2 separate regions of the Homo sapiens genome follow, and region 1 is linked to region 2. The links come from fine-mapping of genetic effects on gene expression. A gene starts in region 2. The other region holds a variant in brackets. All regions are shown on one strand. Distances are between the middles of the regions.

Region 1 (4,394 bases), 270 kb before region 2:
ACCCTAAGCCACTAAGTGTGATGCCTATATTAGCCTGAACATCATGACCACAAAAAGCAGAGCACACAAAGCAGGGAGGAGTAGACTTTAGGTCATGAGATGCATTGCCAAGAGTCCATAACATACTGCATAAGGCATAATACTGCAGACATCTCCCCAAGACTTAGTAGAGAAAGATATAATCTTTCTTCTCTATGTTACTTGGATTTAAGTCTGTTTAAGGCTGACAGGTCTGGATTAACTACCTAAATCGAGTTATGTCTTTAAATATCAGAATAGCACTACATATTCAAGGAGGGGTGGGTTTCTATTTACTGGCATGAGAAATACTATTACTGGGCACTTGAAAAGACAACCTTAGGCAACTTTGGGATGGAATGTATTACACAGTCAATATACTCTTAAGGCCCGGTGTGGTGGCTCACGCCTGTAATTCCAACACTTTGGGAGGCCGAGGTGGGCAGATCACCTGAGGTCGGGAGTTTGAGACCAGCCTGACCAACATGGAGAAACCCCATCTCTACTAAAAATACAAAAATTAGCTGGGTGTGGTGGCGCATGCCTATAATCCCAGCTACTCAGGAGGCTGAGGTAGGAGATTGCTTGAACCCAGGAGGCAGAGGTTGCAGTGAGCCGAGATTGTGCCATTGCACTCCAGCCTGGGCAACAAGAGTGAAACTCCATCTCAAAAAAAAAAAAAAACCTCTTAAAATGACTAATTTGAGTCTACGGTCCTCGATCCCAGACCTCTCCTAACCTCCTGTACGTCTCCTAACATAACACGAATGTAATACTCATGCACACATGTTTGTCAAGCACTCCTATGTAAGCCTGTGCTAGGGAGGGTGATGCAACCATGAGCAAGGCCACCGAAGCACCTGCCGTTAGATCTTTTACATGCTAGTGGAAGAAGAAATAAACATGCACTTAAATACAAACTGATAATTTTATGTTATGATAAATGTTAAGGAGAAAAAAACAGAGCAAAGGTGGAGTGGCTACTTTAGATAGGGAAGCTGGAGTCAAGGGAGCTTGTGATGGCAAACCCTGGCAGTCGTGTTCATGATGGTTGTCTTGGCACTAGCATAGTGCCTCCAATATATTAACATCAAATAAAGGCTGGGTGAGGTAGCTCATGCCTGGAATCCCAGCACTCTGGGAGGCTGAGGCGGGCAGATCGCTTTGAGTTCAGGAGTTCGAGACCAGCCTGAGCAATGTGGTAAAACCCCATCTCTACAAAAAATACAAAAATTAGCTGCGCATTGGTGGCTTGCACTTGTAGTTCCAGCTACTTGGGAGGCTGAGGCTGGAGAATCACTTGACCCCAGGAAGCGGAAGTTTCAGTGAGCTAAGGTTGTGCCACTGCACTCCAATTTGGGTGACAGAGTGAGACCCTGTCTCAAAAAAAAAAAAAATTTAAATTTAAAAATAAATAAATGTCGGTTGGGTGAAGGAGTGTGTCTGGACCTCAGGATAAGAATGTCTCCTCCCAGATTTAGAATGGGCCTAGGGAATAGAACAGCACTACTCTAAACTGCTCGTTCTGCACTGAGGAAACTAAGAAAAGACCAAAGAGATTAAGTGAACAATTTGGTTTGGATGTTTTATCCCCTCCAAATCTCATGTTGAAAAGTGGCCTCCATTGTTGGAGGTGGGCCTAGCGGGAGGTGTTTGGGTCAGGGGGTCTGATCCCTCATGAATGGCTTAGTGCCATGCCCTTGGTGACGAGTGAGTTCTCACTCAGTGAGCTCATGCATGATCTGGTTGTTTAAAAGTGTGTGGCACCTCCCCTCTCTTGCTAGGTGACATGCCCAATACCCTTTGCCATGTGCCATGATTCTAAGCTCACCAGAAGCCTAACCAGAAGTAGATGTCAGCACTATGCTTCTCGTATACCTGCAGAACCATAAGCCAATTAAACCTCTTTTCTTTTTCATTTTTTTTGAGACAGGGTCTCACTCTCACTCCCGTTGCCCAGGCTGGTGTACAGTGGCGTGATCACAACTCACTGCAGCCTCAACTTCCTGGGGTCAGGTGATCCTCTACCTCAGGCTCCTGAGTAGCCAGGACTATAGGTGTGCACCACCATACCTAGCTATTTTTTAATATTTTTAGCACGGAGTGCAGTGACACAATCTCAGCTGACTGCAACCTCTGCCTCTCAGGCTCAAGCAATCCTCCCACCTCAGCCTCCTGAGTAGCTGGGAGTATGAGTGTGCACCAACATATCTGGCTAATTTTTGTATTTTTTTTAGAGACAGGATTTTGCCATATTACCCAGGCTGGTCTCGAACTCCTGAGCTCAAGTGCTCCTGCCTTGGCTTCCCAAAGTGTTGGCCACTATACCCAGACATATATTTTTTTTCTTTTTATTTTTTTAGACAGAGTCTTGCTCTGTTGTCC[A/G]GGCTGGAATGCAAAGACATGACCTTGGCTCACTGCAACCTGTGCCACTGGGGTTCAAGCAATTCTCCTGCCTCAGCCTCCCGAGTAGCTAGGATTACAGGCACGTGCTACCACACCCGGCTAATTTTTGTGTTTTTAGTAGGGACGGGGTTTCACCATGTTGATCAGGCTGGTCTCAAACTCCTAACCTCAGGTGGTCCACCCCCATGGCCTCCCAAAGTGCTGCGATTACAGGTGTGAGCCACTGTGCCCGGCCCCAGCCAGGTATTTTTTATTGCACGGCAAGAAAAGACTAACACAGTGACTGTTACCAGATTTTGCATTGAGTTGGTGGCAGAGCCATTGCTTGGTCCAGGGGTGCTCTTATTTGTGCACCATATTTTTCTCTTTGCCATTTTCCAGTGGAAATCTCTTCCATTGTCAAGTGCTTCTGTGATAAGAAACCCCAGAGGCATTCTTTGAGTCATAAAAAAAGCATCACCAGTCTGGGTAACAGCGAGACCTCGTTCCTTAAAATTAAATAAATAAAGAAAGAAAGAAACAAATAAAAAAAAATAGCCGGGTGTGGTGACACATATCTGTAGTCCTAGTTACCTGGGAGTCTGAGGCAAGAGGATCATTTGAGCCCAGGAGTGGGAGGCTGCAGTAAGCTATGATTGTGACACTGCACTCCAGCCTGAGTGACAGAGTGAGACCCTATCTCTAAAAAAAAAAAACAAAAATAACCAAAATAAGCATCAATGTTCAATTGTCACTCTTTTCCCTTATCTTTTTATTCATATGTTAGCTTTCTGTCACTACCACAGTAAAAATCCCAGTCTTTATCTTCAAACTAGTTTACTACAACCTTCCTAAGCAATCTTCTTAACCCTGCTGATATCCTCAAACTGTGTCAAACGCTTTCCTTTCCTCTCTGCCTTGAGAACCAATGCCCTATCCCCCGATTTTCTCCTGCAGCAGGTTGCTTCTCCCCAACTTACTGCGTGTGTTTTCTATTTTCTTACTCATGGCCTCTGTTCACTCGCTTACTTGCTCATTCACTCGTCACTTACTAAGTGTCAAGTACTGTGTTGGGTACCAGATATACTAAGAGAAAAAAGAAACTGTCTCTGCCCTCCAAGAGCTCACAGTCTAGGATCAGTCTCATAAATGGATCATTATAATATAACAGAGTAAGAGCAGTGACTGAGAAATGCACAGTGTATTGAGGAACTGAGGAAAGCACCTAATCCAGCCTGGGAAACCACAGAGGATTTGCTATAGGAGACAATCCCAAATTAAGCTTCATAGGATGAGCAGAGGGAGCCAGATAAAGACGGCAGGACATTCTAAGCAGAGGGGACAGCATGAGTGAAGGCGCAGAGAACAGAAGCAGTATGCTTTATGAAACTTGGTGCTGCTGCAGGACCATGGGAGATGAAGCTGGAGGGTCTCTTTAGGGGAGAGATCACACAGCCCCGTATATGCCAACCCAGCAAGCTCCGAATGTGCCGGATAGACAACACAGAGCAATGAAGGGGTTTTTTTTTGAGACGGAGTCTTGCTCTGTCGCCCAGGCTGGAGTGCAGTGGCGTGATCTCGGCTCACTGCAAGCTCCGCCTCCTGGGTTCACACCATTCTCCTGCCTCAGCCTCCCAAGTAGCTGGGACTACAGGCGCCCGCCACCATGCCCAGCTAATTTTTTGTATTTTTAGTCGAGACGGGGTTTCACCGTGTTAGCCAGGATGGTCTCGATCTCCTGACTTCGTGATCCGCCCGCCTCCACCTCCCAAAGTGCTGGGATTACAGGTGTGAGCCACCGTGCCCGGCCTAGAGCAATGAAGGGTTTTAAGCTGGAGAGAGAAACGGTCAGATTGGTGGTTTAGACAGCCACTCTGGCTGGTAAAGATCTGTGGGGACAAAAGAGAGGCAGTGGAGACTGAGCAGTAGGTTTTTCAGTGTTCAGATGAAGAGACTATGAGCACGAGGAATGGAAGAGAGACCAAGAGGAG
Region 2 (4,394 bases):
TTTAAACATATGTGTATGTGTTTTGAGTGTGTATCATCTAGAATCTCTGGAAAACTAACATTCCAGCTAATCATAAGGTGACATTCCTGATAACTGGGAACGATGCCAAGGAATAAAATCACTTTATTATTACTATTTGATAACTTTTGTAGTAAGAAAATGACAGGTGCCTCGAAAAATTAAAGCAAGGGGTGGGTAAGGGAAGTGAGTGTGGCTAAAAAAGCAACATGAGGAATCCTTATAGTGCTGAATATGTTCTTTATCTTAACTGTATCAACATAAATACCCTGCTTATGATATTACACCATCGTTTCAAAAGATGTTACCATTGGGAGAAACAGGGTTAGGTGTATATTAGATTTGTGTTATTTCTTCCAACTGCATGTAAATCTAAAACTACTTCAAAATAGAAGTTTACTTTTAAAAACAACAATAGAAAAAGGTCCTTTTAGTCCTGGATTTCTCCACCTTGGCACTACTGACATTTTGCAGCACCTAATTATTTCTTGTGGGTCTGTCCTGGGAATTGAAGGGTAGCATCCCTGGCCTCTATCCACTAAATGCCAGTAATGTGCCTCCATTCGTGACAACCAAAAATGTCTCCATACATGCCAAATGTCCTCAGGGGGGGAAAATTGCCCCAGTTGAGAACCAGTGCTCTAGTCATAAAAGCCAAGAAGAGATATGAAAATGTTCCTAATTGAAGAAGATGAAAGAGATATAACAACTAAACGCAATACTTGATCCTGGACTGAATCCTGTCCTGGAGGGTAAAGAATGCTATAAAGAACATTATTAGGCCAATTAACAAAATTGAAATTAAATGGTAGATTAAATAAAAGTATTGTATCAATATTAAATATACCTAAGTTGGTAACTGTAGCGTACTTACGTAGGAGATTACTGCTATGCTTAGGAAATACATACTGAAGTATTTAGGGGAAAAGGATCGTGATGTATGCAATCTACCATCAAATGATTCAGAAAAAAATATATAGAAAGATATATACACGTGAATAGTATATATATCTGTGTGTATATGTATTTAATGTATATATTGACATATATAGACATATCTACGTAGCAGGTGGATCTGATTAAAGAGTATGCAAGTGTGTTCTTTGAACTATATTATTTTTGTAACTTCGCTGTATGTTTAAACTAATTACAATTCAGGTGTGGGGTTTAAGTGGAAGAAAAAAAAAAAACTTTTGGCCGGGCACGGTGGCTCACGCCTGTAATCCCAGCACTTTGGGAGGCCGAGGCGGGTGGATCACGAGGTCAGGAGATTGAGACGATCCTGGCTAACACGGTGAAACCCCGTATCTACTAAAAATACAAAAACAAAATTAGCCGGACGTGGTGGCGGGCACCTGTAGTCCCAGCTACTCCCGCCTGGGCGACAAAGCGAGACTCCGTCTCAAAAAAAAAAAAAAAAAAAACTTTTATAAATCCTAAAGGCAGGTTTCACAGCAGTAGTACAGCATAAGTGATAAACATCCCAAGAAGATAATGACTACTAACGGGATAAATTCCTACTTCAACCCCAAGACATTCGTTGGAAAGAATTATCTACCTTCAGCCTCTCTCTCTCTCCTTGCCTACTTTCTGGAGGTGACCCCCTGAACAGTGCGGGACAGAAAATTAATCTATCCCATTAAAAAAAAAAAAAATTTCTAGGAAGTGACTCAATAAACCTACATCTCCGCTCGATTTCTCCACAAATCACTGAGGCATCTTCATCCTCAACAATTAAGAAGCAAAATCGAGGAAAGCATACAAGTGTTTCAAAGAAAACCACTTATGCACTCAGCTGAGCAAGAACGTTAAGTGGACTAGAGAAGAGACAACACGGAATGTCTAGGAGGAGTGAGTAAAAAGGAAGGACTAAAAAGAGATAAATCAGGAGCCAGTCTGAGAGAGCTAGAATGCGTATGCCCGCCAGAAAAAAAAGTATTCCAATGAGTGCGAGTGTGTCAGCGGGAGAGGGGTAGCTCACCTGGCTGTGGTAAGCAGAGGGTGCTGAGTGCCCACCAGCTTCCGCACCTGCATAGCGATGTTGCTGAGCTCGTCGCTCAGCAGGCAGCGAAGGCTCATGAAGGACGTGGGGTACCCCACGATCTTCTCCGCCTCTGACACTACCTGATTCCAGTGGGCCGGGGACTTGGAGGACCGACCACGCCAAGAGCCCACCGAGGAGATGGTGTCGAGGGACGGGGACCACCACAGGCGACGCGGGGAACCCGAGGCTCCAAGATAACGTGGCAAGTGCAACAGCAGCTGCCGAAAGTTCATGGTTTGAGTCTGGAAGGGTCTGGGACCTGGGGGTATCCAGAAGTGCCGCGGGAAACAAACCAGGGGCAGAGGAGGAACTTACAGTAACTAAAAGGAAGCGGCAATTCTTGACCCTCAGAGTAAGGTGGCTTCCTGGAGCAGTGACCAGAAACGAACTTTAACTGCTGCTTTCTGCAGCCCAGGCTGGGCAAACAACAGTCCCAGCTCAGCACTGCCCCCGGCCACCCGGGGTAGAAACCACAGCCACTGCCTATGTGGAGGACGCCATATTGGAGGCATGGAATGCGGCCTGCCGTAAAGACAGAGGCGGGTTGTTAAGTATACTCTCTACTTTACGGCGTACCCGAGAACGCCCCCGCAGGGGCGGTGCTTTGGAGGTGAACCCGGGTTGGGAGGTTCAGCTCCTCCCACCCCGCCGCTCTGGGCCAGCAAAGGTCGTCAGTGACAGGGATCAGTTGTGGGCGGCGAGTGGTCCCTCTGCACACGGTATCTGGGCCGAGTCTGGATTCATTAGAGTCCCCGGCGCCCAGCACTGAGTGGCATGCATAAGTATTGGTGTCACGAACAACGGTCAGCCCCCGGCTTGCCCGCAAGGAAGGGCGTCGGGCGGAGGCACCAGTTCCTCCCGGAAGCTTTTTGTCGCTATCGCCACCAGCCCCTGGCAGTGGCAGTGGCCGTGGCCGGGCGTGAAGGCGGCCTCTCGGGCTGCATGCCTCCTGGAGCTGGGGCCACGTCTCAGTGGTGGAACGCCTAGTCGGGGCGTGGGGCTGAGCCCTCGTGTCCTCAGGGCCCAACCAGACATAAGGCAGCGTGGTGCGGCGGAAAGGGGTCCCAAGGAAAGTCCTCGGATCCAACTTCGAATTACCGGCCTCCTCGCTGAGCCTTGGGAGAAACAGCGGTGCCTCCTTCCCGCGGGTGCGGAGAGGAAGAATGAAACGTTGCCTACTCCCTGCCTCTTATCTTCCTCTTTATGCCTAGCCTGGAGCTCAACTCCAGGATTGAAGACTATCGCTGACCGGAGTGCTTTTCACGTACTAGTTCATGTATTACTTTATTTAATCCTCAGAACAACCTCATTAAGTAGATAATATTAGTATTCTCCGTGTTTTGTATGAGGAAACTAAGGTGCAGTCGAGTCGCGTAAGTTCCCTAAGACCACACTAGACAGGGATGTGAGCCCAGACAATCTGGTTTCAGAATCCGTATTCTAACCGAAAGATTACACCGTCTAAATAATAGGCTCCCATCCACTCTTTTCTCCTTATTGCTGAGAGGAAACAGTCAATATGATTATCTTTTAAGTAATGCTACCTATTTTTTTTTCAAATGTGCCTAAGATCTTACCTCCTTTCTTATCACCTAAAACAGGTGTTAACCGTTCTTAATAAAGGATATATTATCCATTTTTTACACTCTTAAAAATAGCTTATAAAACTCTCTAAAACTTTCAAAATCCTTCCAAATTCATGGTATTTTATTTTTATTTTTTATTTATTTTTTGAGATGGGTCTTGCTCTGTCACCCAAGCTGGAGTACAGCGGCGCGATTTCAGCTCACTGCAACCTCCGCCTCCCAGTTTCAAGCAATTCTTGTGCCTCAGCCTCCCAAGTGGCTGGGACTACAGGCGCCTGCCACCACGCCCGGCTAACTTTTGTATTTTTAGTAGAGACTGGGTTTCACCATGTTGACCAGGCTGGTCTCAAACTCCTGACCTCGAGTGATCCGCCCACTTCGGCTTCCCAAAGTGCTGGGATTACAGGTGTGAGCTACCAGCTACCATGCCCAGCCTGTCAGTATTTTTTAAATGAGCATCATGCATAATACTGTACCAGCCTCTTGAGCTACAAATAAAGATTGGGACTTAAAGAGTAGTTGTTCACTTTGCAAAACAAGATGATTTTCTCTACAAAAGATTTAGCTTCATACTCTCCCTTTGGCAAGTTTTCCTTGTGATTTAAATTTTTTATTTACAAAAATTCAGTTTAGGTGTAACTTTTCAGGGGCACATTTTATTTAACATGAATTGTGATTATAAGTATCAAACACAGTCTATGCCCTTAAAGTAAGTAAGCTGAAGTTTGAAAATAATTCCTGTGAAA

Evidence for each region. PIP is the estimated chance that this variant, and not a neighbour inherited with it, causes the effect. A credible set is the group of variants that fine-mapping cannot tell apart.
Region 1: its variant is the best candidate, but not a certain one, in a credible set for the expression of PDSS2 in liver (GTEx, PIP 0.73).

The regions. Positions count from the first base shown.
Region 1 is chr6:107,186,978-107,191,371 of GRCh38, forward strand. All of the region lies in intron 7 of PDSS2 (decaprenyl diphosphate synthase subunit 2), which reads right to left. Among named protein-coding and RNA genes, the nearest start is that of BEND3, 74 kb to the left of the region's middle. The variant A/G (reference allele first, on the strand shown) is at 2,404.
Region 2 is chr6:107,456,991-107,461,384 of GRCh38, forward strand. PDSS2 (decaprenyl diphosphate synthase subunit 2) reads right to left here and starts at 2,574. Exons shown (of 8, transcript NM_020381.4): 1 at 2,000-2,574. The coding sequence starts at 2,295. RefSeq lists enhancers at 2,445-2,894, 2,615-3,536.